Linked DNA regions of Homo sapiens: regions 1, 2, 3 and 4 are each reported to be linked to region 5. The links are microRNA targets in miRTarBase. Many come from high-throughput screens and were not tested one by one. Region 5 holds a microRNA gene; each other region holds the end of a gene's coding sequence. Distances are between the middles of the regions.

Region 1 (6,004 bases), 65 Mb from region 5:
GCAGACTTTCAAACCACTAAACTCCTAAAACAACGGGCTCCGGATGAGCATCTCGCTGTAGCTTTACCGCCACATGTACCTTAACTGATATCCATGTTTTTTTCCCCTAAACATCTAAAACACCAACACATTTCAGTTCTTTTCTAGTCCTTACTACCCATGTTGTCAAGAAGAGTGGTTCTCAAAGTGCGGTCCATGGACCAGTAGTTCGGGTACTGAGAACTTGTTAGAAATTAAAATTCGTGGGCCCCGCTCCATCCCGACTGAGTGTGAATCTGGGGGTGGAGCCCAGCATCTGTGTGTAACAAGCCCCGCGCATATTCTGATGGGCCTTGAGATGAAGAACCACTTGTCAGGTGCCCAATAAAGCACGGCCTAAGCCACCAACCCCAAATCGGGAGTTTAGGAGGGGCAAAGTCCGTCAGCTGGCTTTCGAAACATGTGCAAGGTGTTTTGTCACCGCTTAAAAGGCAGGTTCAGATTCATCCAAAGGATTTGAAAACTTGGTCCACACAAAAACCTGCACACAGATGTTTAGTTTTATTTGTAATTGCCAAAATGTATAAGCAAGGTGTCCCTCAGGAGCTGAATGGATAAACTGTGGTACAACCAGACAATGGAATATTACTCAGCACTAAAGAGAAATAAGCTATCAAGCCATGAAAAGATGTGGAGGAAATGGAAATGCGTATTACTAAGTGAAAGAAGCCGATCTAAAAAAAAAGGCTACCTACTGTGATTCCAACTATATGACATTCTGAAAAAGGGAAAAACTATGGAAACCGTAGACTCACAATTGTCAGGGGATTTGCAGGAAGATATGAACTGGCAGAGAACTGTGGGGCGGTGAAGTATTATGGTAGTATAATGGTGGATACATGCCATTATACATTTGTCCAAACACACAGAATGTACAAGAATGAACCGTAAACTACGGACTTTGGGTGATAATGGTGTCAAAACAGGTTCATTAGCTGTAAAAAATGTGCCACTCTGTGGGGGATGTTGACAATGAGGGAGGTGTGAGAGCAAGGAGGATATGGGAAATTTCTGTACCTTCCACTTACTTTTGCTGTGAATCTAAAATTGCTCTAAAAATATAATAAAGTCTTAAAAGACAAAACAAAAAAGTAGGTTTAGAGAGAGATGATTTGGGGTAAAAATGAAAATTATGGCTTTTTGTTTCAGACAATGAGAACTGAAAAGAGAAGTGATCTTTTAAAGTATGAGTTTATTCTCCAGGTTTTCTTAAATACCCACAAATTAGTGTTTTTATTGCTGCTATATCCAAGAGCTGAAAACAATTTAAAATATGTACTTTTATCACATTTAACACTTACAAGAGAGAAAATGGAACTGTTTGAATTTTAAAGATGTTTTTCAGATTCAGTAACATATGGAAATTGAGGATAATCATAGAAACAGCTATTGAACTCTAAAATAAAAAAATTATATGGAAATAAAAGGTATTTCATTTGAAAAATGGCTCATCACCTCTCCTGCTGGTTAATACACTAATGACAATGAAATGGAATCAAGTGTTATCTTCTCCACATTTAAAACAAAGTGCTTCTTCTCCTGATTGCCAGCTTTAGGTCTGAAATGTAAAACAGGATTAATTGAGGTTCCGAACAACTCAAATATTTCACTATTGTACTTTATGCTAATGAATTATTTTGTAATACTAAGAAAATAAATTGGTAAATACCTCATATATTTGCTGGATTAATGTTTGACAGGAAAAAACACGAAATGGATGAACAGCTGATCGAGTCGAGTGCAATTTGGTCACTGGGACACAGTTACAAATAGCACTGAATCATAATACACAAAGAGCCTAGTGTGTGTTAAAGAAAGACGAAAGAGGAGTTGGGTGCAGTGGCTCATGCCTGTAATCCCAGCACTTTGGGCAGCCAAGGCGGGTGGATCACCTGAGGTCAGGAGTTTGAGACCAGCCCGGCCAACATGATGAAACCATCTCTACTAAAAACACAAAAATTAGCTAGGTGTGGTGGCAGGCGCCTATAATCCCAGCTACTTGGGAGGTTGAGGCAGGAGAACTGCTTGAATATGGGAGGCAAAGGTTGCAGTGAGCCGAGATCGTGACACTGCAATCCAGCCTGGGCAACAAGAGTGAAACTCCGTCTCAAAAAATATGAAAAAAATAAAGAGGAGGAACACTTGCAATCTCTATAGCAACCTATTTGGCCAAATAGTCCAGGTTTGACAAGCCCACAGGTAATGAGTCTCTAGAAAGATGAAGTTATTGAGAAGCTAGTTTCAAATTAGCTCCAATTTTATTTACATGTTAACAATACACAATTTTATCTTCTATCCTTTTCATTCAAAGGAAAATTAAAACCATACTCTGTTAGTGTGAACTTCTGTTTCTGAACTTTCCAGTTTTGTTTTTTTTTTTTTGAGACGGAGTCTCACTCTGTCACCCAGGCTGGAGTGCAATGGTGTGATCTTGGCTCACTGCAACCTCCGCCTCCTGGCTTCAAGGAATTCTCCCACCTCAGCCTCCCAAGTAACTGGGACTACAGGCACACGCCACCACGCCCGGCAAATTTTTGTATTTTTTTTAGTAGAGACAGGGTTTTGCCATGTTGGCCAGGCTAGTCTCGAAATCCTGACCTTAGATGATCCACCCGCCTTGGCCTCCCAAAGTGCTGGGATCCACTGCACCCGGCCTTTTTTGGTTAGTTTTAAAAAGATAAGTGATAGCAGATGTTGATGTTATTAGTGTGACCAATGCATTGAATTTCCAAAGAATAAAATCAGATTACTTCAGTACTGTATGTCATTATTCACAATGACTCACAGGATAAATATGACAGATATCCCACAACTGTCTTCAGTCCTGGGATCATAAAATAGGACAATTGATAATCTTCCATTAAGTGGAAAATTAATTAGGAGAAATGCCATTTCTAGAATGCTGTTTTTCTTTTTCTCTTCATTTGAATTTTTTTAAAGTAGACCTCACACTTTCTTTATTTAAGTATCATTTTAAATAACCTTCTAACATTGTTTTTTCTATTTTCTCTGAAATAAATCAAATTAAACTTGCAAAATTCGTTCACACCAATTCATCTCAGGTGTTTCTTTGACAGCAAGCTACTTTTAATTCCGTGAAAATATTTTAATACTACACCACTTACTATGAGGGTGGCCTGACGTCTTTTTGCCATTTTTTTAAAGCATTAAAAAAAATTAGGTTATCCAGTGTTCATATAATGGAACTAAAAGTTCCTACAGAGATAATGAATTTGGAACAATAATGATGTAATCAGACTTACAAGTTAAAGCCACAAATAAGCCTTATAAAAACAACTTTATGTTAAATTTAAACCCATATAAAGAAAGGGGAGAGGAAGAAGAGCAAAAAAAAAAAAAAAAAAAAAGTAGTCACTATCCCTATAGAGCGGACTTAACACCCAATAAACTGTGTCAATTATGTCAGCTGATTCTGTTGAACAACTGATCAAGTGAGAGGATGAGGGCTGAAAGCAATCAAGCTACTGTGATTGGAACCAGCCGGACTCAAAAAAAAAAAAAAAAAAGTCTACAGTTTACCAGCATACACACTCAGTCTAGACTTTCCGCCACAATATCAAAGTACAAATTCTTCACAAATCACAACTCTATCCCAAATGTTCTTGTATGCTCTATGTTGCTTTTCTATTCTACTAAATGACTGATAGCTTTACAATGAGATTTGTTTTATTTAAAAAACACTTGCCAAATCACTACCCCACAAAATGTTGAGAATCAGAGGTAACTGTAGAAAGGAAATATGTATATACTGCTTTTATTATTGGAATATGTTTGTTAGTTGAATGAAAACAAACAGTAGCTAAAAAGGTTTCAAATGATAGAAAAACATATCTGGGTAAGTTATGACACAACTTTTTGTGTATTCAGACGACAGAAATCTGTATTTTTGCACCAATTGCAAATGCAAAGTTAACAATGAACTTGGGGAACTGAAAGGTCAAAGGGAGTCTCAAACATATTCACTATTTTAAAATTTAAGACAAAGAAGCTTAGAAAAAAAACCCCAACATATACACCATTATAACAGTCTTTTTTTAATGACTTCCAATTTTAACTTTTTTCTAAAGCACTAAGACCCTTATTGTAGATTATGTATCATCTCCTCTTTGGCTATGAGATGCGTAGTTTTGTTAACCAGAGACATTAATGAGTTCAGTTTCTGAGACCAGTCATTTAATAAATTATTTGGATCCTTGGGTCTCTGGAAGTTGATAATTCCTGCTAATCTGTCTACTTTAGCAAAGATGGTCTTGTTAACTACTAGATTTGAGAGAAAGGCTTCGGACTCCTGCAAGAGAGAAAGATAAATTGGATTAAGACAGGATAAATTACAGACAATAAACAAAACTTCAGAAAAGCATTTTCTGAACTCTTCATCCAAGAATATGCAGGGGAATTCATTCTTAAGAGTTAGTAACACTCAGCTGGGTGTGGTGGCTCACACCTGTAATCCCAGCACTTTGGGAGGCTGAATTGGGTGAATCACTTGAGGTCAGGAGTTCAAGACCAGCCTGAGCAACATGGTGAAACCCCATCTCTACTAAAAATACCAAAATTAGCCAGGCATGGTGGCACACGCCTGTAGTCCCAGCTACTCAGGAGGCTGAGGCAGGAGAATCGCCTGAACCCTGGGAGGTAGAGGTTGAAGTGAGCTGAGATCGCACCAATGCACTCCCACCTGGGCGACAAGGTGAGACTCTGCCTCAAAAAAAAAAAAAAAAAAAAAAAAAGAGTTAGCAACTGCTGACTTCCTATAATAAGTACTTATTTTACTGATAGTCTAGGGAATGAATAGAATCTGAGTAGACTCAGTCAGGGGTGAGTTTGAATCTGCCTCCTTGCAAGCTCAATACTGCTGGTATCCATGCCAACGGCAAGTTGGTCTACTCCCTTTTCTACAAAGTTTCCCCTTAAAAGGCAGTATGGTACAGTTAATTTGTTTCCAGAAATGCTGGGTTAGAATATATGCTCTGCTACTTGGCAAGTATGTACCACGGACAAGACACTTGACTTCTAAGGACTCTGGTACTCTCATTCATAAGTGACAAGAGCTGACAAGCTGATCAAGGAACAAACCTTCCAACTCTAATGTTCCATGAGTCTTACCACCTAAACTGTCACAGATCCTTCTGGGGACAGAAATGGCTTTCAGGCCATTACTACACACTTGGGTTAACTCCTCTTTGTGTGCTATGCATTTTGTCAACATAGAAACATGGACCTAAAGACAACACTGTTCCAACAAGACCTAGGATCACTTGATACTTAAGTTAGTTTTTGGTACTCAAGATTGCTTGGGAAACTATTACTCTATTACCTAAACATAAAATTAAATCATAACATTGATTTTCTTACTCAATTTTTACAAGTCAACATTCAAAAGGAATGCCTACAAATAACTCAAAGTTGATTACTACTTACATCAACAGATAGATCCAGAAGCTGTGCCATCCTTTTCATTGTTATCCGAGTATAATACTTGGCCATTATTCTAATATTCTGGGGAGAGGATAGAGAGCAGGGAGAACACGTAACATTTGTCAGTAAGTCTAAAAGTCCATTTATTTTCATATCCAAGTAAGTTTACTTAAAATGTTAGACTCAGAGCTTTTATTTTTCTACAGTCCATCACTGGAGCAAAGCTAGTTCTAAGTTTCAATAACAAAACTAAATACTTAGATATTTTGGTTTCTGTAGTTATTCTGAATTACTATGAATATTCTACACAGCTCTTTAAATATATAGTCAAAATATATGCCTGTCTTAACTAGTGGTTAAAAATTATAATTGTACTGAAATATTTTTGCTGAGTGCAAGAATCTAAAGTTAAGATTTTCTAATTATAACACAAATGTTTTAAAGGCTAAAATCTAAAAAATGATTGGAGATCGATCGGGTGCAGGGACTCACACCTGTAATCCCAGCACTTTGGGAGGCTGAGGCA
Region 2 (3,000 bases), not on the chromosome of region 5:
TCAATTGCATACATGAATTTGTCTTGGCCACCGTGCCAAGCTCTCCACTGCCTGCTACGATGTGGGACCAGGTCCTCTCTGGGCCTCAGTTTCTTTAACGGTAGACAAGCAGAGTAAAGGCTGCCTCACTGCGCCCTGAGAGGCTGCATCGCGCACTCTGTGACCTCGCTGTTCCGCCTGGCGCGCGGTGGGAGCCCAGGGCGGTATCCAAATTCTCCGAATTCTTGAAAGTAAGCGGAGAAGACTGCGCAGGATCTGAGCGGGTCACACCCAGGGGGCTGCGTGGGCACCCTGCGGTCCCCTGCCCGCCCGCCGGCCCCGCACTCACGCTGCGCGTTGCAGTTGCCTCAGCAAGTACGCGACCCGGGCTCGGGCGGCAGCGGCCATGGCGCTTGGAGTCCTCTTCCCTCCTCGGGTCGCTACACCGCCCCCTCCGCCGGCCAATCACGGAGGCTGCCCGCCTCCCGCCCCTCGGCCGCGCCTGCCCACCCGCTTCGCGGGGTCACCTGTCTAAGCCTCAAGCCAGTCGGGCTCAGGGCCATTTTCCCACGGAGTAAGAACCAGAACGCCAGCTGCCCCAGCGGCGCTCGCACCATCCACCCTTGAAATTGCCGTAGAAGGTAACTGCTCCGTAGGCCTCGGGTTCTGCCTTAAATCTCCTTACTTATCAACTCTATTTTTCACATGTTGAGGACTTGGGGGAAGGAAGAGGAACAGGGATATTCTTTTTCCACTGTTAATCCTTTAAAATGTTACTTTCCCTTCTAAGAGTATTTTAAGTGATCAAGACCCTGCCTTTAAACTGTTTTAACAGTAAACAAGAACCTAGCAGAGCCCGAGGGTTTTTGTTAAATACTGTGTGAATGGCTTTGCTTTTGATGAAAGCAAAATCAATAGTTAAAACTCTTACATCAATAGTTAAAACTTGCCATGATTAGACTATGCTCCGGGAGGGCTTGGCTGTGCCATATCTGCCATGTCCCAGTGGAAAAGCTGATTAACGATAAAGCTCAACTTTATCAGAAAGTATCCAAAGACAGTAACAACTAAACATTTGCATTTTTAGTAATCTGTTATTATGAAATCTGAATCCTTTATGGGAGATATTAAGTTTTACAGAAATGAATTTACTGCGATCAAACTGGAAAAGATTGATGGACAGGAAGACCAAGGACAGCTATATAAACATTTCACCTCCTAATCAAACCAGCTCAGGCCAACTTGACAAATGAATCAAAAAATAATGTTCTATGAGAACACATGTACACAGGGAGGGGAACAACACACATTGGGGCCTGGGGGCAGGGGATAGAAGGGGGCAGAGGGACTTAATACTTAGGTGATGGGTTGATAGGTGCAGCAAGCCACCACAGCACACGTTTACCTATGTAACAAACATGCACATCCTGCACATCTACTCCGGAACTTAAAAAAAGATAATAATGTCCTAATTAAGGATCTTATGGGTCTGTTTCTTTCTTCCCCCAAACAAAACTATACCTGACGTCAAGCTTAAAAACAAACACACACACACAAACAACTGGGGATATAAACGTAGAGAAAGATTTAAGTGTTTTCTGGATTAATGAGGATTATTACCATTAGTCAATGAAGCCCAAATTGATCATTTACAGGAAATCCATGTGTTCAGTGTTGAAAGGCATAAAATCTTTTTAAAAAACAGACATCAGTTTTACTACTTTGAATATTATATTTGATACCAAAAGAAGTATAAGTTTAGAAGTGGTATCACTGAAACCATTATAATTGAACTGCTTTTTTTTTTTGAGATGGCCCCTTCCTCTGTTGCCCAGGCTGGAGTGGAGTGCAGTGGCGTGATCTGGGCTCACTGCAACCTCCGCCTCCCAGGTTCAAACGATACTCCTGCCTCAGCCTCCCAAGTAGCTGGGACTACAGGTACCAGCCACCGTGTCTGGCTAATTTTTTTATTTTTAGTAGAGATGGGGTTTCACTGTGTTGGCCAGGCTGGTCGCGAACTCCTGACCTCAGGTGATCCGCCCGCCCCGGCCTCCCAAAGTACTGGGACTCTACAGGAGTGAGCCACTGCGCACGGCCTGCTTTGTGTTTTTCAGAAAGTAAACAAAAATAATCTGTACCAGGTATCCAGGTAACCGGCTTCAAGTACAATTTCTACCCAGTAGTCAGAAAGTTAAAAGTCACACTAGATAAGACATCTTTATTACTTAATCTTTAAAACAGTCACTTGCCTATTCAATTCTGAAACTGTTTGTTTTCTTTCCCTCCCCCGCACTCCCGCTCTGATACACAAACTTGTTGTAAAAATAATGCAGAAACATATACGTCAATCTAAGTCTCTGAAATATGGCCAACTCTACCTCGCCGTATATCCAACATTAAAAAGAAAAAAAAAGGCTGTTTAAGAATAGAACTCATTCCCGGTTTCCACCAAATTATTTCCCTAATTCTTAAATCCTCAAATAAGTTCTTAATCTCCAAAGTCTCGGTTGTGGGAAAAACATTAATTTGTGCAGTCCAACACTTACATACTTTCTTGACGGAAGGGCAATCCTGTCCCTTTAAACTCAATGAAGGCAGCGGCCAGGTCCTTCTGAGTCCCCGTATAATTGCCTAGAACTTAACATTTAGTATTCATAGTCCTTGGTTTACAGACGGGTCCGACAGTTAGAAACTATTACTTCCTCCTCTTTCCTCCTGGGCGCTGTCCTCCTTTTCTCTTGCCACCCAAGCCAGGCGGCCCAGAATTCATCTTGCCTCCCAAGCCCCCTTTCCTCTTCCCTCCCTGGCTGGGCGGGCCCCCTTTCCTCTTGCCCCCAGGCCCCTGCCGGCCTCCCTTTCTCTTGCCCTTCTGGCTCATTTTCCTCCTCTTGGCGGCCTCCTCCTGGTCCTCCTCCCTCATCTGCTTATTGGTGGCCCTAGTCACATCCAGCTGAGGCTTCTTGCTGTTCATGACACGAAGCAGCTCCAACTGGTTCTTTTTCTCGGCTGCAAAGTCCCCGA
Region 3 (6,004 bases), not on the chromosome of region 5:
GCGTGACCACTCAGTACCAGGGCACCTGCCGCTGCAAGGCCACCATCTACCTGTGGAAATGGGACGACAAGGTGGTCATCTCTGACATCGACGGCACCATCACCAAGTGAGGCCCACCCAGCTGTGGGAAGGGGAGGGAGAGGGGTTGTGGACTCGCCTCCCTCTGTGCTGGGTGTGGTGGGGAGTGAGAGGAGCCCTCCCTTCCTGGTGGGCCATCCTGGGGCTGGAGCTGGGCCACGTGGAGCTGCCTTGGAGTAACCCTTCCTCTCTCACTCTAGGTCAGATGCTCTGGGCCATATCCTGCCCCAGCTGGGGAAAGACTGGACACACCAGGGCATCACCAGTCTCTATCACAAAATCCAACTGTGAGTGCCTGGGCTGGGGCTGGGGCTGAGGCGAGGCCCCCAGCTCTAGAGAGGGAGTGACAGGACAGGACATCTTGGGGACCAGCAGGGCCCACAAGGCAGGCTGCCAGGGCAGGTGCCTGGAGTGCTGAGACCTCTCTATTGGCCCGCAGTTCTGGGAAAGGCTCATCCCCTGGGGCTGTGTTCTAGGATCAGGGCCCACCTACTGGCCTGCAGCCGGAGGGGAGGCCCTCTCCATCCTGGTCCACCCAGGCCTCAGGACTCTGTGCACCGTCCAGCTGAGTCCACTGCCTGGCCGTTCTCTTCAAGTCCCCTCCCTGCAAAGGTTGGAACATCAGAGTCCCACAGTTGGGCTGGGCAGGCTAAAGCCAGAGAAACAGATGGGGGCTGGCTGGTCTCTGATGGCTCTATGCCACCCTGTCCCCCACTCTCAGAAATGGGTACAAGTTCCTGTACTGCTCGGCGCGGGCCATTGGCATGGCGGACCTCACCAAGGGGTACCTGCAGTGGGTGAGCGAGGGGGGCTGTAGCCTCCCCAAGGGCCCCATCCTTCTGTCTCCCAGCAGCCTCTTCTCTGCCCTCCACAGGTAACCACCCCTACACATACAAGCCCGTGGCCCCCTGGTGGGGAAAGGCAGGCCCACTGCCAGGCCAGCCTTAGCAGGCTGGCATTAAGCTCTCAGGTGGCAAGGAGGGTGGGGTCAGACCCCCCATCACCTGAGCCTGCCATCCCCTCTGGCTTCTTCCCTACTTTGGCCCCCTTCCCTGCTGTGGTTCTGGCCACCCCAGAGAGGTGATCGAGAAGAAACCAGAGGTGTTCAAGGTCGCCTGCCTGAGTGACATCCAGCAGCTGTTTCTGCCCCACGGACAGCCCTTCTATGCTGCCTTTGGGAATAGGCCCAATGTGAGTGTGTCCCCTCCACTCTGCTGAGCCACCTCTCCCCAGCTGCCTGCAGGCCTCCATTCCATGGGCCCCTCCTGTCTCCCACAGGATGTCTTTGCCTACCGGCAGGTGGGCCTGCCTGAGTCACGCATCTTCACAGTCAACCCCCGGGGAGAGCTCATCCAGGAGCTCATAAAGAACCACAAATCCACGTGAGGCTAAACCCTGCCATGTTCCCCATGCCCTACCACGTCCCCCTGCCCTGGCTTCTCCCTGGGCCCCAATTTTACCTCTTACCGGGGAGTCTGTCCCTTACTCTGGGACAGACCCATGGCCAAGGCCATCGTTTGGTGGCAGCTCAGGCTCAGTGCTGGCCCCCTTCTGCCTGTAGGTATGAGCGGCTTGGTGAAGTGGTCGAGCTCCTCTTCCCACCTGTGGCCCGTGGCCCCAGCACAGACCTGGCCAACCCTGAATACAGTAACTTCTGCTACTGGCGGGAGCCACTGCCTGCTGTGGACCTTGATACCCTGGACTGAACCTGCCCTGGCTGGCTCCTCCTCCCTGGCCCGGCCCAGGACTGGCTAGGTGTCCTGGGGTATAGGAGGGTGGGAATTGGAGTGTCATGGGGCAAACCCACTGAAGGGGAAGGAGGAGGCTGCAGGTTGGTTGGCAGCTAGAGAGACTCCCCCATCTTCCCCGTCATATTTTTGCCAGCTAAGCTGCAGCTGCTCCAGGCGTCAGTGTGGCACTGTCCTGGGGCAATTAGCTTGTCATCTGGGCCCTTGCAGGGTTCTTTTTTTTTTTTTTTTTTTTTTTTTCCTGAGACAGGGTCTTGTTCTGTTGCCCAGGCTGGAGTGCAGTGGCATGATCTCTCGGCTCACTGCAACCTCCGCCTCCCGGGTTCAAGCGATTCACCTGCCTCAGCCTCCCAAGTAGCTGGGATTACAGGCGTGTACCACCACGCCTGGCTAATTTTCGTGTTTTTAGTAGAGATGGGTTTTCACCACATTGGCCAGGCTGGTCTCGAACTCCTGACCTCAAGTGATTTGCCCACCTCGGCCTCCCAAAGTGCTGGGATTACAGGCATGAGCTACCATGCCAGGCCTCCTTGCAGGGTTTTCTATGCCCTTGATATCTGTCTCCCTGTCAACCTGGGACCTTGCTGTAAGTCTTGATAGGACAGGGAGAAGAGGGAGGCCCTACCGAGGCTCGAGGCTTCAGTGAAGGGTGACAGCAGTGGGAGTGTGGTACAGCCTCTGGAAGGACACAGTGTTCTCCCCGCCCCTTGTCTGGGAGCCAGGACTGTACCCTCCGAAGCCAGACATCACTGCCAACATATCCCCCTTGCTGGTGCCCTGGCATCTCAGCACATGACACACACCCACACCTGCAGGCTGTGGTTCCGGCTTGGCCTGCTCCCCGTCCGGCTGCTGCCGCTGCCTCTCTCCAGACCTCGCTTAAGGACAGTCCCAAACTCAGCTGGGGCAGGTGTTGGCCTGAAAGTCCTCCCCCAGCCTCTGCTGGCCAGCTTGGTGCTCACAGCTGCTGGGTAAGCTCTTGCCTAAGGAGCTGTGGGAAGCAGGGCTGATGCCCCAGCAACCTCTCCTCCCACTGTCTTTGAAGAAAGTAGCTTTAGACCGGCTAAAAGCTTTAATCCAGAGCCTGCCCTACTCTGATAGTACCAGAGTGGAGGGCAGAATACCAAATGTCCAGGAACCAAAGGCAGGGCTGTGGGGACCTGAAGAGCAGCACAGTGGGGCCCGTGCTGCTGTGGGGGAAACTGAGGCTGGGAGCCTCAGCAGAGACCGGTGTCAAGAGTCTCTGGGAACTGCATAGGCCTGAGGAACATGCATTTTCAAGTTGTCCATTGATGGTTTCGTACCTGAATTTCTCACCTTTTGTGAACATCTTGGGAGGGTGGGGGTTTTGCAGGGGTGTTAAAAGCAAGGCTTGGAGCCCCTTTCCTCCAGCTGGTGGCTCCTTCTCAGGGCCTGGCCTCATTCAGGCCACTTTGTAGAGAAATGCCCTGACCTCGCAGGAAGGATTTCCCCACCCCCAAGTGGAAGGAAGAGGACAGTGTGGGCACCAGAGGGCCCTGGAAACATCTTAGGGGAAGGAAAGGAAAAGGATAAATTTGGAGTGGGGGGTCTCTAAACAGATTGCCTGGATTCCGTTCTTTCCTGGGGTTCTACAGCTGCCTAAGCCCTCACCTTGGGGGAGGATCAAAGGGAATAAAGAGAACTCTTGGCTGAGTCTTTGTGCTTCTGTTCTGTCCTGAAGGACACGTGAGGAGCCAGAAACATCTGGCAGCCTCTGGTCCTTAGTTCAGATACAACATCCATGAAGCTGCCAGGTGTGAGGAGAGTTCCAGTGGGCATCACCTTCCTGCACAAACCTAGTCCTGATGGCTGCGAAGAGAAGCCGAGGGGACAAGGAACAGAAGCCACCAAGGGCTGTGGACTGTTGCTTGTGGGCACAGGGCAATGCGGACAGGCCACTGGCTGTGGGCCTGTAGGTCTCTGCACAGTTGCTGAGGCTGGTGCTGACTGCCTGCAGGGTCCTCTCAAGGCCTTACATACGGACACTGATCAAGGCCAGTTTGCCACAGCAGCTGCCCCTGCCAGCCATGCTCAGGCCCTGCAGCTGGCTGTCCAGACACTGATTTGCTGACAGTGGAATGTGAACTCTCTCAAGTCTACCCTGGCCTTCAAGCATGACATCCTTGCCTTGACCGCTGTCCGGAACTGTCCAGTTTCTGCAGCACTGTGCATGGGTTTTGGTGGCTGGGACAGCCACGTGGAGGATTCCCTCAGTGGCCTCCTTAGTGCCATTTGGGCTAGCCAGGGAAGGCTGGAAGGCGCTGCTGGATAAGGCTGGGCTCTGGGGTGATGTTCCCCGAGTTGGTGGGATCTAGGGGTTGGGTCCTGGCCAGCCTGTCTAGTTGGCTTGCCCTGGCCGCACCTGCTCAGCCAGCTGGGCCTGGCAGTCCAGTAGGTCATCCCGGAGGCGGGCAATGTCCTGCGTGTGCTGGGCCAGCGTACGATTCAGCTGGTCCACATGGCTCCACAGGCCCTCTCTGGGCCTCAGTGGCTCAGTGGGCAAGCTGTCCAGGCCCGCGGCCAGCAGGCCCAGCCTCCTGCACGCACCCTCCACTTGTGCCACCCGCTGGTCAAAGTGTCCCACTGTGTGCTGAAGTTTCTGGGCTGTGTCCTGGCAGCGGCTCAGCCCACTGGCCACCTTGGCCACACCAGCCTTGAGTTGCTCCAGCTCCCCACGCAGGTTCAGGACCTGCCTGTGGCCAGCCTGAAGCCTGGAGCCTTGGCTGCTGACCTGCTCCTGGATGGCCTGGACTTCGGCTTCCACCTTGCGTTCCCGCTCATCCAGGGACGTGTTGGCAGCCAAGAAGGCATCAGAGTACTGGCTGACAGAGTCACTGAGGCCTGTGAGCGACTTGCTCACTGAGTTCAGATTGACCTTGAGCAGAGTGATCTCGCCTTGAAGTGAGCTGCCCGTCCCTTCTGCCAGCTGTCCCTGGACCTCGGCCACAGTGCCATTGAGCTGCTGGAGCAGTGCTGCGTGGCTGGCCACCTGGCGTAGGAGGGCCTCGCTCCGGCTCTGCCAGGCCTTCACCTCTGCCACGAGGCTGTCCAGGATGGCTGAGGTGGTGCTCGGGGTGCACGAAGTCTCCAGTGAGACCAACCGTTGCTCTAGCACAGCCAGCTCTGTCTGTACAAGGGGCCGAGCTGACCTGCCCGGAGAGGCGCTGTCATGGCTTAGCTCCCCAGCCAATGTTGCTAGGCGCTCCTCGAGGCTCTGCACGCGCTCTTCCAGCATGGTCCCAAAGCCGCCCACTCCCCACCCCCCCATGTCCAACCTCAGACAGCATCCCCTTGCTCCACCCTCTGTCCCATTGAGCGTCTCCAGACCCTCAAGCAGCCCGTCCACACCTCCCTCGAGCATGGCAGCAGAGAGCCTCGTAAGCTCATCCCCGGCCGGGGCACCGGGGCCCCTTTGGGTCTCGGTGACTGCCTGCAGGGCCCTCTCAAGGCCATCCATACGGGCATTGATCAAGGCTAGTTGCCCACAGCAGCTGCCCCTGCCAGACACGCTCAGGCCCTGCAGCTGGCTGCCCAGCTGTGACAGCTCCTGGCGCAGGGCCAGCTCCCGGCCATCAAGGCTCTGGTGCAGCCTCCGGCTGGCGGCCTGACCCTCCTCACATTGCCGCCGTACCTCCTGCACCCGCAGGTCACACTCACTCTGGACGCCTTGCAGCTTCTGCTCAAAGCCATCCAGCAGGCTCCCCCAGAGTCGGTGCAGCCGTCGGTCCACGTACTCCTCCAGCAGGGCCAGGGAGGTGAGCGGGGATGGTGGGGCTTCCCGCAGCCGCTGCAGGTGGGCCTCATGGCCAAGTGCCAGCCCATGCACCTTGTCTAGAAGCTGCACCTTGGTCTGAAGAGTGTTGCTCACCTCTGTCACCTTGCTTAGGATCTCGTCTAAGGGAGGTGTTAGTGGCCCTCTGGCTCTGTCTCCTGGGCCCACAAGCCCCTCAGGGATGACCCCAAAGCCCACAGGGACAGCAGGAGCCCTGGGGCCACCAGTCATCCTGTTGGGATCCTCGTGGCTAGCCACCAGGCCACTGAGGGTACCATATGTTTGAGCCAGGCGCTGGACATCACCCTCCAGGCGTTCCAGCCGCTCACCAAACAGCCCTGGGCCTTTCCTTCCTGGGAAAGAGAAGAGAGCCCCAGGGGCATCA
Region 4 (6,004 bases), not on the chromosome of region 5:
CCTCTCTCTGTGGCATCCTCCAAGCCAGATAACGCCCCAGCCCTCACCAGGCTGCAGCCCTAGCAGTGCCTCTGCTGGCTCCCTGCTCCCCTTCTGAGGCAGTCCCCCTGCTGCTTGCCCACCTTCCCCCAGGCTGGACTTTGCCTATCACTCCCTACCCAGCCTCCTTCTACCTCCCATTTCCTCCCCTCCCTCTCTTCTCTTCCCCTGCCCCTTCTTCTCTGCCAGGTAAGGACTAGCAAGACACTCAGCCCCCTCAGGACAGATAGGGAGACTGAGGCCCACTGAAGGACAGAGTCAGGGCCACAGCTGTGCCCCCTGCCAGGTGTCGCCTCTGCTGTCTCTGTCCTTCCTGCTGTCCAGTCACATCCACCAGAGTCATTTACTTAGTAGACCCCGAGGACCAGCCCAAGGGAAGGCTGCGGGGCAGGGGGTGGGGGTCTGTTTCACCTCAAGGTGTTTCTAACAGCAAATGTCTCGAGAAGCAGTGAGCTCCCCAGCCCTGGGGCTGAGCAAGAAGAGGACAGGGAGGGATGCTGGGCAGGTGACTTGAGGCCCTTACAGCCCAGGTGGATTCCTGCACACCAGTGCCCAGTGTACCAGCAGAGACCCTCTTGGTCTGTGCAGCCCAGAAGGAGGTGCTGGGTCAGGAGTGAAGATGGCACCTATGGTTTTTTTGTTGTTGTTGTTTTGCTTTTCTTTTTTTTTTTTTTTTGAGGTAGAGTCTTACTCTATCGCCCAGGCTGGAGTGCAGTGGCACAATCTTGGCTCACTGCAACCTTCGCCTCCTGGGTTCAAGCGATTCTCCTGCCTCAGCCTCCCGAATAGCTGGGATTACAGGCGCGTGCCACCATGCCTGGCTAATTTTTGTATTTTTAGCAGAGATGGGGTTTTGCCGTGTTGGCCAGTTGGTCTCGAACTCCTGACCCCAAGTGATCTGCCCGCCTCGACCTCCCACAGCGCTGGAATTACAGGCGTGAGCCACTGCACCTGGCTGAGATGGCACCTATGTAACCTTTGTCCAGCATGCAAGGCTCGGGTGCCTCCTCCCATGCCCCTGTGTGTCCGTGGCAGGGTGGGGGTGGGAGAGTCCTGAATGAGGCCACACAGTGCACCCCAGTTGAAGGGGAGAGGGGATGGTTAAGGAAGGCTTCGAGAAATCGGGGTTTCAGCTGGCCTTGAAGGGGCAAACGGAAGGGTGAAGGGACCAGTGGGCCTGAGTCCCTGCGTCACGTGACCTGGCCTCCAGTGGGCCTCACACACCCCTCCCTGGGCCTGGCTTGGTGGGGTGAGCCCAACAGGTGAGCTCTATCTAGGGAGGGGCCCGAGCCAGGTGACAGCAAGAACAAGGAACAAGCAGGCTGTTCCTCCATGCAGTGACAGCCAGACAGACCTCAAGAGGCTGAGGCCGAGCTGGGAGAGCACTCCTCTCCCAGCCGCCCTCCTCAGCTCAGCGCCTGCTGGGCCCCTGCCGTCTTGACAGTTTTTCTCTCCCCATTCTCAGGGAGACTCTGCCATTCTACATGGAGTCAAAATACCTGAGGAAACCCTGCCCCCTGAGGTGGGAGCAGCTGCATCTCCTTTCCCGAGGGGCCGTCACTGCTGGGCAGTGCCGTGAAGCTGCACTGATAGGGCCCTGACAGGTCAGCCAGGAAGCGGTGAGGGCTGCCCTGGTCCCTGCGCGTCACGGCTGTCTTCTCTCTTCTCTCTCTATCTCTCTTCTCCTTTGGGTGAAAGCCTCCTCTGCTTTTTGGGGGGCAAAGGGGTATCTGAAGCCCCTCCCCAGAGATCTAATCTCAGAGTCCTCCCAGCATGTGAGGACTGGCCCAGGTGTCCTCACTCTGATGGCAGGCTTGGGGACATCCACCAGCCCCCCTAGAATCTGAACTTCAGGCCAAAGGTTCATGGGCACGCGGGAGCACTGTGTCTGGGAGTCTCCTTGTGTGCTCCCCACCTCCCCACACTTTGTGATGTGTGGGCTTTTTGGAAAAGCCACCCTTACTCTCTCCTTCCATCCAATTCTGTGTTCAGGGCCATAGCTCATCTGCTGAGGGTACAGATCTCCCCAGAAAACTGCACACACCCGGCATTTGGCCCTGGCCTAGGGCTTAGAGACGTGAGCTCCAGCACTGTGTCTGCCTTGAACTTGCCTGTGGTCTCAGACAGGCTTCAGTTTTCTGACCTGAGAAATGGGGGCTTTTGTCTCTACCTCATACGGGCCTCCTGACAGTCTGGAATTGGTTGACCTTGTCTGACCCCCTCCCAAGCTCACTCCTGGGAGTATCTAGGAAGGAGAGGGGGTGGGGCTGCAATAAGGACAGCATCTTGGGAAGCACACACCGGCAGGGGATGCAGCAGAATGGCAGCCCTGGATGACAGGCATGTGCCTGTACTCCTCTCACCCGTCCTGGTCCAGCTCCAGAGGGAGAGTGGCAGAGCTGCGGCACCTACCCTGTCAGCAGAGTTAAATCCCAGCCAGACCTGCAGAGGAAGGGCCGAGGGAGGGCTGCAGCCACACCCACTCCACCCTGCTGCCTGGGCTGGTGAGTGGCCCAAGGGCTCCAGGGGACTGGGCCAGAACCCTCCTGGATGCATAGCATGGCTCCAAGAAGCCCTCCCTCTCTACTGCACCAGAAAACCTCCTTGCTACCAGGGACCCTGAGGCAAGGATCGCATCAGAGCCAAAAGCAGGGGACACCTTCTTGGAGGACCTCTGCAAATGGGCTGGGGCTCACCAAGATCTGGAGGGGTGGGTGCTGACACCCTGTAGCTCCCCCGGCACCTCCCCTGCAGCAGTAGCTCATCAACTCTCCATGTCAGTGTGGGAGCCAGGCAGGAGGGCATTCCCATCTTACTCATGAGGAAACTGAGGCCCGGAGATGAAGTCTGACTTGCCCACAGTCACACAGCAGTGAGCAGGATTGGCCCTGGAACCCAGAGCCCTGGTACTTGGACAAAGTCTCTTTCCCTTTCTCACTGGTGTTGCCCCCACAGGGAAGCAGGTGGGTCTGGAGGCATCCCGAGGGCTCGTTGTTCAGGGCCTCGAGGAGGAGAGGCACCACCCTCTCACTTCTTCCTGGTCCATTCCAGTGTCCAGGACCTCTGGGATGCCACAGCCAGGGCAGGGGACGGGGGCTGCAGGGCTGCGGGGCCTCCCTCCATCTCCCACTCACACCCTGTCGGCCTGCAGCCCCACCTCATGATCTCTGCTCAATGCTGTCTCTCTGCCAAGAATCCTCTTCTCCCCTCCCTGCCTGGAAGGAGGCTCTCTCCCATGTGAAGGCTCCCCAGAACCCCTAGGTGCTGCCTCACTGGGCAACGCGTGCTCCCCGTTCCCTGTGGTTATGCGCTCCCTGAGGGCAGAAGCTACGATGCTCCTGCGTGTGCCCTAGCACAGCACCTGGCCTTCAGGAGACTTGAGTTCGGGAGCCTGCAATTGTAAGGGAGTGGGTGGCTGGTGGAGAGTGAACGGTGTGAGAGTGAGAGGGCCAGGAGGGGGACCGGTGGGAGTGTGAGGCTGAAGGCTGAGAAGGGGCAGCAGTGGGCACACGAGCCCAGATAGGAGCAGGGGCTGAGCAGGGAGAGCAGGCTGGTGCCGCCCACCCCGCTGCAGGGCCCTCCCCTAGTCGGATGTGGTCCCATTCCCATGCGACAGGCTTGGCCAAGGGCTCAACCCCACAGGCTTCCACGATGGGCTCAGCGCCCTCATGGTCACTGTGGTCCTGACCGGGTGGTGGCTGCCCTTTCCACATTTGGCGAGGGGAAGGATGATGCCTAAGGACATCCCCCAGGCCCAAACTAGCTGTGGCTGGCCAGCCAGCCAGCAGGCCGCATGCAGAGCCACAGAGTAGAAAAACCTTGTTTTATTCAGCCCAGACCTGGGCAATCTAGCTCTGTGGTATGGCCAAAGTATAAAAAATAAAAACCAACAACAACAAAACAACACTGTAGAGAAAAGTGAAGTATAAAATGGGGTCTGGCGTCCGGAATCCCTGTGGTTTTCATCCACGTTCGCTCCCTGAGGCCGGCAGGGAGGGATGCCCCTCCGTGCCTGTGGGTTGGGGGCTGGGCCCCTCGGCGGGAGGCTGCCCGGGGAGCAGGGCCTGCTTTGGAAGGGGAGAGATTGGCCATCTGTCCCTCCCGGAGATCAGGATCTGAGGAAGGAAAGACAGTGGGTCAATGAGGGGCTGCAAAGTAGGCCCCCGTGGCCTCCTCAGCCAGGGCGTCCCTCCCACAGCCCAGATCCCTCGTGGCAGGGCAGGCATGGGCCTACATTTCCCTCAAGAGAAAGTTCCGACCCCCTCAGCCCAGCTCCAAAAGGAGGGGTTTGATGGACTCCCACCCACCCAGGGCACAGTCTCAGCACATTCCCCTCCCCATGCCCTAGTCCCAGATTGTTTTCTAGGCCATTAGCAGAGCTGCTACTGTCTGGAAATACTTTCTTGTTTTTTCTAACTCAGTACTTTTTTTTTTTTAAGCCTCCTTTTTCCTCCAGAAACACGATGGAAACCCACAGGCGTCAGTCCCGTGGCCTTTCTGGGAACGCTCTGTCCAGCTTCCTGTGCACGCTGGCCCAGCTGCCTGCCTGCGGTCAGGGTCACAGAGACTGAGACACTCTAATAAGGCCCGGCCTTTCCAAGCACTTATGTAAAGAGCTCTTGGAAGGAAGGGCTTTGGCTCCCCCTGCTGCCCACAGGCCCCCGGGGAGCTGGGAGGGCCGCGCAGGCTGCTTCTCCATCTGCCCTGCCGACAGCCCTCCTGGCTGCTCCAGGCGCCTGGCACGTGGGATGCTGTTTCTGTTCCCATCCCCCTTTCCCAGCAGCAGGAGGGATTCCCTGCCTCCCCGAGCCCCCAGCAGCCTCCTTTGTTTCCTGGATACCCCCTTCTTCCTTCCTCCTCCTTCCCTAGAATGGCTTCTACCACTTAGGTGACCCTGGGTCTTGAATGGCTAAGACAGGCCCTGAGGAGCAGGAATGTGCTGGAAACCCAGGCCTGCTAAAGAGCCAAACTGCCAGTGATGGGACAGGAGTTCGTCCTTTCAAACATGCTGTGTGCCCTGGGGAATTCTGATCTCATTCTACTCATGAGGAACCTAATCTCTGCACTGAACTGGAGGCTGCTGTTCCCATTTTTAATATTCATGATGTGGTGGCAGCATGCTGTGAACAGTTAGGTTGATGGTAGCAACCAAGTGTGAGAGGGCTGTCTCTAAATGAGCCTGGCTCTGGTCACAGACTGAGCCCTGACCCTGGCCACACACTAAGCCCTGATCCTGGTCACACACTGAGCCCTGATCCTGGTCACACACTGAGCCCTGAGCCTGGCTACACACTGGGCCCTGACTCTGGTCACAGACTGAGCCCTGACCCTGGTCACACACTGGGCCCTGACCCTAGGTATACACTGAACCCTGATCCTGGTCACACACTGAGCCTTGATCCTGGTCACACATTGAGTCCTAACCCTTGTCACACACTGAGCCCTAACCCTTGTCACAGACTGAATCCTGACCCTGGCCATACACCACACCCTGACCATAGTCATAGGCTTAATCTCTCATACCTGCCATCCATTAATAAGTACACACTTTTAGGGAAAGATACCTCTCTGGGCCTTAAGATCTCTACCACCTTTCTCCCAGTTGATGAACTAAAGCTGAAAGCTCTAGGACTAATTTTTTTTTTTTTTTTTAATGGAAAAGGGTTGCTTCGATCTGGAGTGTGGTGGGGTTTCCTTGTGAGCTTGTAAGCAAGGGGTCCCTCTGCAAACTACTTCACATGGGGAATCAGGAGAAAGACTGAGGACCCTACCCAGCAGCATGTGCCAAAATCCCAAGCCCAGATTTTAGGCACTTCTTCTACAATGGGGGCCTAGGGACTGAAGATGGCTCCTTTGAACCAGAATCACTTCTAATCTGTGACTGTTTAATCCAGTCCACTTGAAAAGGACACTAATGATCACAGCTGCTGTTCACTGTGTGCCACTGTGAACATGCAGACATCAG
Region 5 (6,004 bases):
GGAGGTGGAGAGGCTCCTCATAAGTGCTCCTAGAGCTGGGCTTTGACGGATGAATAGGAGTTCTTCTACCGAGCAGGAAGGCATTTGTGAATAACAGAATCCCTGGAACAAAGGCTAGCGGCAAGAAAACTGGAGCTCTAGTAGGCCAAATCCAGACTATGCAGGGCCTCTCTGACCCCATCTCTTTTATCTTTTCTCTTTTTGATAGAGTCAGATCCCCCACCCCCGACTTCCAAAGAGCCCCTCCGCCCCATGTATCTTGTGCAGTGGAGTCTGTGCATTGCTAACCTGCCCCAGGGGTCTGCTGTGCCCACAGTCTTTATTCTTCAGCGTTCCCCCACATCCGCTCCCCAAGTTAACTTACTGCCCCTAACCCCATCCTCAAGCCCTCATTGCTTCTGTAAGGGAGGGTCTCACAGCCCTGCCCCAGCCCAGGCCCCTAACCCCATCCTCAAGCCCTCATTGCTTCTGTAAGGGAGGGTCTCACAGCCCTGCCCCAGCCCAGGCCCCTAACCCCATCCTCAAGCCCTCATTGCTTCTGTAAGGGAGGGTCTCACAGCCCTGCCCCAGCCCAGGCCCCTAACCCCATCCTCAAGCCCTCATTGCTTCTGTAAGGGAGGGTCTCACAGCCCTGCCCCAGCCCAGGCCCCTAACCCCCTCCTCAAGCCCTCATTGCTTCTGTAAGGGAGGGTCTCACAGCCCTGCCCCAGCCCAGGCCCCTAACCCCCTCCTCAAGCCCTCATTGCTTCTGTAAGGGAGGGTCTCACAGCCCTGCCCCAGCCCAGGCCCCTAACCCCCTCCTCAAGCCCTCATTGCTTCTGTAAGGGAGGGTCTCACAGCCCTGCCCCAGCCCAGGCCCCTAACCCCATCCTCAAGCCCTCATTGCTTCTGTAAGGGAGGGTCTCACAGCCCTGCCCCAGCCCAGGCCCCTAACCCCCTCCTCAAGCCCTCATTGCTTCTGTAAGGGAGGGTCTCACAGCCCTGCCCCAGCCCAGGCCCCTAACCCCCTCCTCAAGCCCTCATTGCTTCTGTAAGGGAGGGTCTCACAGCCCTGCCCCAGCCCAGGCAGGGTGAGGACCGCCTTGCCCTCCTGTGCACTTCACTCTTCGACCTTTCTCTCCCTGCCCCGCTCTTCCGGCCATGCCTTGCACAGCCCTCCCCATCCTGGTCCAGCTCCTCGTCTGAACACACTCCTCTCATTTAGACCCTTCCTCCATCTCGATGGAGCCAGGCTGGGCCAGGACCATGCATTTCCCCGCTCCCAACCAGGGGAACTGCCCCACAAGTCATGGGCTCTCCCTGCCAATTCTGGTCTCCGGGAACATTAACTTCTCCAGGAAACCGTCCTCCTCATCCCCTGGGGGCCCCTCTTGGCCAAGCTGCTGGTCTCCTTCACTCTCTATTACCCTAACGTGAGCTCTGGGAGCGTCCATCGTGCCACAAATGGTCCGAAGGTGGGTCCTGGATGCCAGGCTCTGGAGCGTGGCACTGACAGCCTTTCCTCTCTCCCTTGCTGAGGCTGCCCATTCCTCTCACCCCTACCTCTGGCGCGTTCCCCCAGCTCCCTCATAGAGGATCCCGTTGCTCATCATTTCTGGGGAGGTTGGCCCACCTTCCCCAACTTCTCTGCCGTCCCTCGGGTCTCCAGCTCCTGGGTGGTACCTGAATCCCCGCTGGGCCTTCCCTCCCAGGCCCAGGTTCCTCCGCTAAAGACTCCTGGGCTACTTTGGGCTCCCCTACTCTTCTTCTCCCGGCCCCCGACGCCACAGCCCTCGCTGCGCCCCAGGCCCCCACGGGAGTCCAGCTTCCTCTCCTGCCCACCCTGCAGGACGAGAGGGTGGCGACACCGCAGTGGCCTTGCGGGGTGTGACGGCAGAAACGTCAGGTCCAGGAACTGAGGAGGGGGAAGGGGCTGCCACGTGAAGACCCCCAGGAGCCGCGGGGCTCCGGAAGGAGAGCGTGAATAAGCTCGAAGGGCCCGCCGCGCCCCTCCGCGCCGCCTCCCCGGCCCCAGGCCCGCGGTTCCGGAAAGTTAACCCCTTGTCGGCTGGGCAGGGGCGCGGCTCCCCCTACCCCGCCGCCGCTTCCGCGCCCCCTCCTCCCCTCCCGGTCGCCTCGGTCCCCACCCCCCGCCTCGCCACTATAAATAGCCCCTTTTCCCATTTCCTAAATTCCCCGCTGACGTCGGCAGCGCGTCAGTGTGTAGGAGCCGCGGCCGCATGAATGAGCCGCCGCACGAGTACTACGCGCGCCTATAAAAGCCGCCGCGCCGGCCAGGCTGCGGGAGGCGACCGGGCAGTGGCGACGCGGCCCGCCAGGTAAGCGGGACGGACCAGCCGCGGAGGGACAGATGTGCGGACACGGACGGGAGGACGAGGAGGGGACGGGCAGGCGGCGGGTGGGGCGGCCCCTCCGGGGTGGGGATGGGGGCGGACGGGGGGCACCGGGGTCCCCTCGCGGCTGCGGAGCCGGGGCCAGAGACGACACGAGCCCGCGCAGCACCTGCCGGCGCCCGATGGACACGCAGCTACTTCGGAGGAGCATCGAGTGGAGGACCGACCTCGGAGACCCCCCCCCGGCTTTCTTGGGGCTCCTGCGCCATTCTCCCAGGAAAGTGAGGCGAAGGTGCTGGCGCCCCAGGAGACGCGCCCCCTCCTCTCCCTCCCTGCGGCGCGGTGACTCAGCCTCGCTGCCCGGGCCGGCTGAGCGGGGGTGCAGGCGAGAGACGGACGCCCACCCCCGCTTCCCCGGCCCTCCTGGGACCCCCGCCCCGCATGGCGTCGGGCGCCCCTTCCCGGCAGGTCCCGTCCAGCGGGTCCCGCGGCGCCCACGGCTTCCCGCCTCTGCGAGCGGAGCTGTCCTCTCAGGACCGGGGGGGCGGGGCCTCCCAGGTCCCGCCCCGCCCCCACGCCCCCGCCGGAAGTGCCCCCTCTGGGACATCTTTGACGTCACGGCCCTCTGACGTCAGGGGCCGCGTGCCTGGTCGCGAGCGCCGGGCGGGGCAGGGCGGGAGACGCAGGGGAGGCGGAGCAGCAGAGCCCCCAGCCGGGGCAGCCGGGGCGACCGGGGCACCCCGCCCGGACAGCGCGCCGGCACCTTGGCTCTAGACTGCTTACTGCCCGGGCCGCCCTCAGTAACAGTCTCCAGTCACGGCCACCGACGCCTGGCCCCGCCCCAGGACCGCGGCCCCGGCCGCCGCCGCCGCGCCCGGGGACCCCCAGTCCCCGTCCCTCAGGGCCCCGCCCCCGGCCCGCTGCCTGCGCCGCCGCTGTCCGCGGTGCTGATCAACGCAGGCGCCGCCATCGGGCCGCCCCGTCCGGGTCCCTAGGGGCTGCGAGGGGCGGTGGCCCACGCGCGCTCCTCAGCCCCCGCCGCCCCGCCCGCCCCCCCGCGGCCCTGACGTCAGCCCGCCCCGCGCCGGCGCCGTCCGCGCGCCCCGCCCCCGCGTCTCCAGGGCAACCGTGGCTTTCGATTGTTACTGTGGGAACTGGAGGTAACAGTCTACAGCCATGGTCGCCCCGCAGCACGCCCACGCGCCGCGCCACGCCGCGCCCCGAGCCGCGGGCTGGGGACGCGGAGCAGAAGGAGGCGGGGGCGGCGAGTCAAGATCCCACGTGCCCGCGCGGGTGGCAGGAGGTGCTGCGCAGGGAGGCGGCCTCCCGGGGCCGGCGGCTGAGTCCACCGAGGCTCGAGCGCGCGCGTCCTGCGGAGTGCGTCTGGCGGCCAGCCTGAGGCCGTCCTGTCCTCCCGGCCAAGGTATCCCAGCCAGGGCTCGGCGAGAGAAGGGGTCGGGCTGGGACTCGGGTTCTTTCGATTTCGGTGAGAGGGAAGCCACTGGGACCAGGAGGCTTGGAAGGAGGTTTGTCTCCTGGGGCCTGAAGACAGTAGAGGGAGGAAAGTTTTCTGAGATACTCCACAGCCCCGTTCTTCCAGGAACCCCTAGCTGAAGTGGGCATTGGGCGAAGAGTAAACTCTTGAATCTTTCCCTCTGAGCTAGGAGGATAAGAAGGGTCCCCAACCCTCTGGAAGCCAATGAGCTTGTAAAGTTAACCTGGTCCGCGAAGCGTCTGAACAGATCAGCCTGCTCACCTCAGCCTATCTCTAGGTGCTGGATTCCAATCTGAGACAGTTTCTCAAATTAGCCCTAAAGAGGAGTGAATACCACAGGGGCTGAAGTCCTCTGGTGCGGATGAAGTGTGAACAAGGATCTCTAAAAATATTATTGTATATGTCGCCTGCCTCTGCCAACATCACCCACTACAGGGGATGTCTATTGAATATCAGGTGTGAGACTTCCCCAGAGATAGTGTTGGGAATGGTTAATGCAACCCAGCCCACGACACGTTAATCCAATTTTTCTTAACGTCTCACGCCCCACCCCCTCCTTCACTCCCCACCCGGCTCCTTTGTGAAGTACTTCTAAGACACTCGTGCCGGTTTCCCAGTTAATCAACACCCACATGCTAGCCATCCCACCTCCCCAGGGCCCCGAGGTCTTGCAGATTAAAACGCACTTGCTTCTGGGTTCCAGGGGATGTCAGTGGGTGGACTGCAGTGGACTGCTGGGTGTAGTGCTCTGGGAAGCCAGAGGTCCAACCTGGCATTATCAGCAACTGGTGGTTAAGGGGCCATATTCTGTTTCTGAGCTTTCTGTAAAACGGGATAATAATCTCTTCTCCTCGGCAGGTGCACTGTGAGGATTAAATAGGATCATGTAAGTAAAAATCCAAAAACAGCAGAATGTTATTTTGATCTTAAGTATTCTGTTAGGCTACTACATGTTTGTGAAGGGGTGGTGTTGGGAGGGGACCCCAGCTCTGTGCACTTAGGCAGAATGAACGGGATGTGGGGGGTACACCTTGAGCTTTAGGCTATATATATTTATTGTCTAATATATATATAATCTATATTATATATATGTTATACATACATATACTTTTATTTTTTTTCTTCTGAGACAGTCTCGCTCTGTCGCCCAGGCTGGAGTGCAGTGGCACTATCTCGGCTCACTGCAACCTCCGCCTCCCGGGTTCACTCTGGGCCTGGGGCTGTTGAGAGGTTCCTTGCTAAGGGGGTTCTCTCTCCTAAGAGCTCTAGGAATCCAAGGTGGAATCAGAGGTGGAAAACAGAAATGGTTGGGATATTCTGAGAAGAGGTCAGAATGTGGTCAGAGGGGAAAGAACCAGAGGATTGACCGTACGTCAGGGTTGTTTAGCATCTTAGAAATCATTTAGGGCAGGGCACAGTGGCTCACGCCTGTAATCCCAGCACTTTGGGAGGCATAGGTGGGAGGATCTCTTGAGCCCAGGAGTTCGAGACCAGCCTGGGCAATACAATGCGACTCCCATCTCTACAAAAAAGAAAGAAAGGAAAGAAGAAAGGAAAGAAAAGAAAGAAAATTAGTTGTGCACACCTGTAGTCCCAGCTACTTGGGAAGTTGAGGTGGGAGGATTGCTTGAGGCTGGGAGGTTGAGGCTGCAGTGAGCTGTGATTGCACCACTGTACTCCAGCCTGGATGACAGAGTGAGACCCTGTCTCAAAAAAAAAAAATCATTATTTAGGGCTGGGAGACATGGCTCATGCCTGTAATCACACCATTTTGCGGGGCGGGGCAGAGGCTGGAGGACTGCTTGAGCCCAGAAATTCGAGACCAGCCTGGGCAACATAGTGAGACCCCATGTCTTAAAAAAAAAAAAGCCAGTGTGATAGGTGGCACCTGTAGTCTCAGCTAAGCTACTCAGGAGGCTGAAGCGGGAGGGTCACTTGAGCCGAAGAGGTCGAGGCTGCAGTGAGCCATGATCCTGCACCTGGTGACAGAGGTAGACCCTGTCTTAATAATAATCCAGCCTGGCCAATATGGTCAGACTCCGTCTCTACTAATAACACAAAAAATTAGCCAGCCATGGTGGTGCTTGCCAGTAATTCCAGCTGCTTGGGAGGCTGAGGCACTAGAATCACTTGAACCCAGGAGACGGAGGTGCAGTGAGCCGTGATCGTGCCACTG

The links. Region 5 holds the annotated microRNA hsa-miR-132-3p (UAACAGUCUACAGCCAUGGUCG, at 3,495-3,516, shown strand). A microRNA usually pairs through its seed, bases 2 to 8, with sites in the 3' UTR of a target mRNA and lowers its output. Matches are read on the target gene's strand: a 7mer-m8 pairs with bases 2 to 8, a 7mer-A1 pairs with bases 2 to 7 and ends in A, and an 8mer does both.
Region 1: the mRNA of PSMD12 is a reported target of hsa-miR-132-3p. Seed matches in the 3' UTR shown: 8mer at 4,082-4,089.
Region 2: miRTarBase lists RRS1 as a target of hsa-miR-132-3p. Seed matches in the 3' UTR shown: 7mer-m8 at 2,216-2,222.
Region 3: the mRNA of EMILIN3 is a reported target of hsa-miR-132-3p. The part of its 3' UTR that is shown has no 7-base or 8-base seed match.
Region 4: miRTarBase lists LOXL1 as a target of hsa-miR-132-3p. The part of its 3' UTR that is shown has no 7-base or 8-base seed match.

Annotation. Positions count from the first base shown.
Region 1 is chr17:67,336,705-67,342,708 of GRCh38, forward strand. It overlaps PSMD12 (proteasome 26S subunit, non-ATPase 12), which reads right to left. Exons shown (of 11, transcript NM_002816.5): 10 at 5,482-5,559; 11 at 1,212-4,348. The coding sequence ends at 4,139. Among named protein-coding and RNA genes, the nearest start is that of PSMD12, 27 kb to the right of the region's middle.
Region 2 is chr8:66,429,904-66,432,903 of GRCh38, reverse strand. RRS1 (regulator of ribosome synthesis 1) reads right to left here. Exons shown (of 1, transcript NM_015169.4): 1 at 2,171-3,000. The coding sequence ends at 2,675. It overlaps ADHFE1 (alcohol dehydrogenase iron containing 1), which reads right to left and starts at 400. Exons shown (of 14, transcript NM_144650.3): 1 at 329-400. The coding sequence starts at 387. It overlaps LOC102724687 (a long non-coding RNA gene), which reads left to right and starts at 538. Exons shown (of 5, transcript XR_929013.3): 1 at 538-620. RefSeq lists a silencer at 147-566 and an enhancer at 2,323-2,372.
Region 3 is chr20:41,357,083-41,363,086 of GRCh38, forward strand. It overlaps EMILIN3 (elastin microfibril interfacer 3), which reads right to left. Exons shown (of 4, transcript NM_052846.2): 4 at 2,880-5,972. The coding sequence ends at 4,186. LPIN3 (lipin 3) reads left to right here. Exons shown (of 20, transcript NM_022896.3): 15 at 1-106; 16 at 279-365; 17 at 800-952; 18 at 1,155-1,269; 19 at 1,357-1,460; 20 at 1,640-3,500. The coding sequence ends at 1,784. Among named protein-coding and RNA genes, the nearest start is that of EMILIN3, 6.7 kb to the right of the region's middle. RefSeq lists enhancers at 973-1,580, 1,581-2,188.
Region 4 is chr15:73,949,981-73,955,984 of GRCh38, reverse strand. It overlaps LOXL1 (lysyl oxidase like 1), which reads right to left. Exons shown (of 7, transcript NM_005576.4): 7 at 3,849-4,154. The coding sequence ends at 4,148. Among named protein-coding and RNA genes, the nearest start is that of LOXL1-AS1, 25 kb to the right of the region's middle. RefSeq lists an enhancer at 2,771-3,454.
Region 5 is chr17:2,047,441-2,053,444 of GRCh38, reverse strand. MIR132 (microRNA 132) reads left to right here and starts at 3,437; the gene lies at 3,437-3,537. It overlaps MIR212 (microRNA 212), which reads left to right and starts at 3,065; the gene lies at 3,065-3,174. It overlaps LOC124903896 (a long non-coding RNA gene), which reads left to right and starts at 3,496. Exons shown (of 2, transcript XR_007065576.1): 1 at 3,496-4,284; 2 at 4,687-4,738. RefSeq lists an enhancer at 1,341-2,236 and silencers at 2,782-2,931, 2,942-3,741.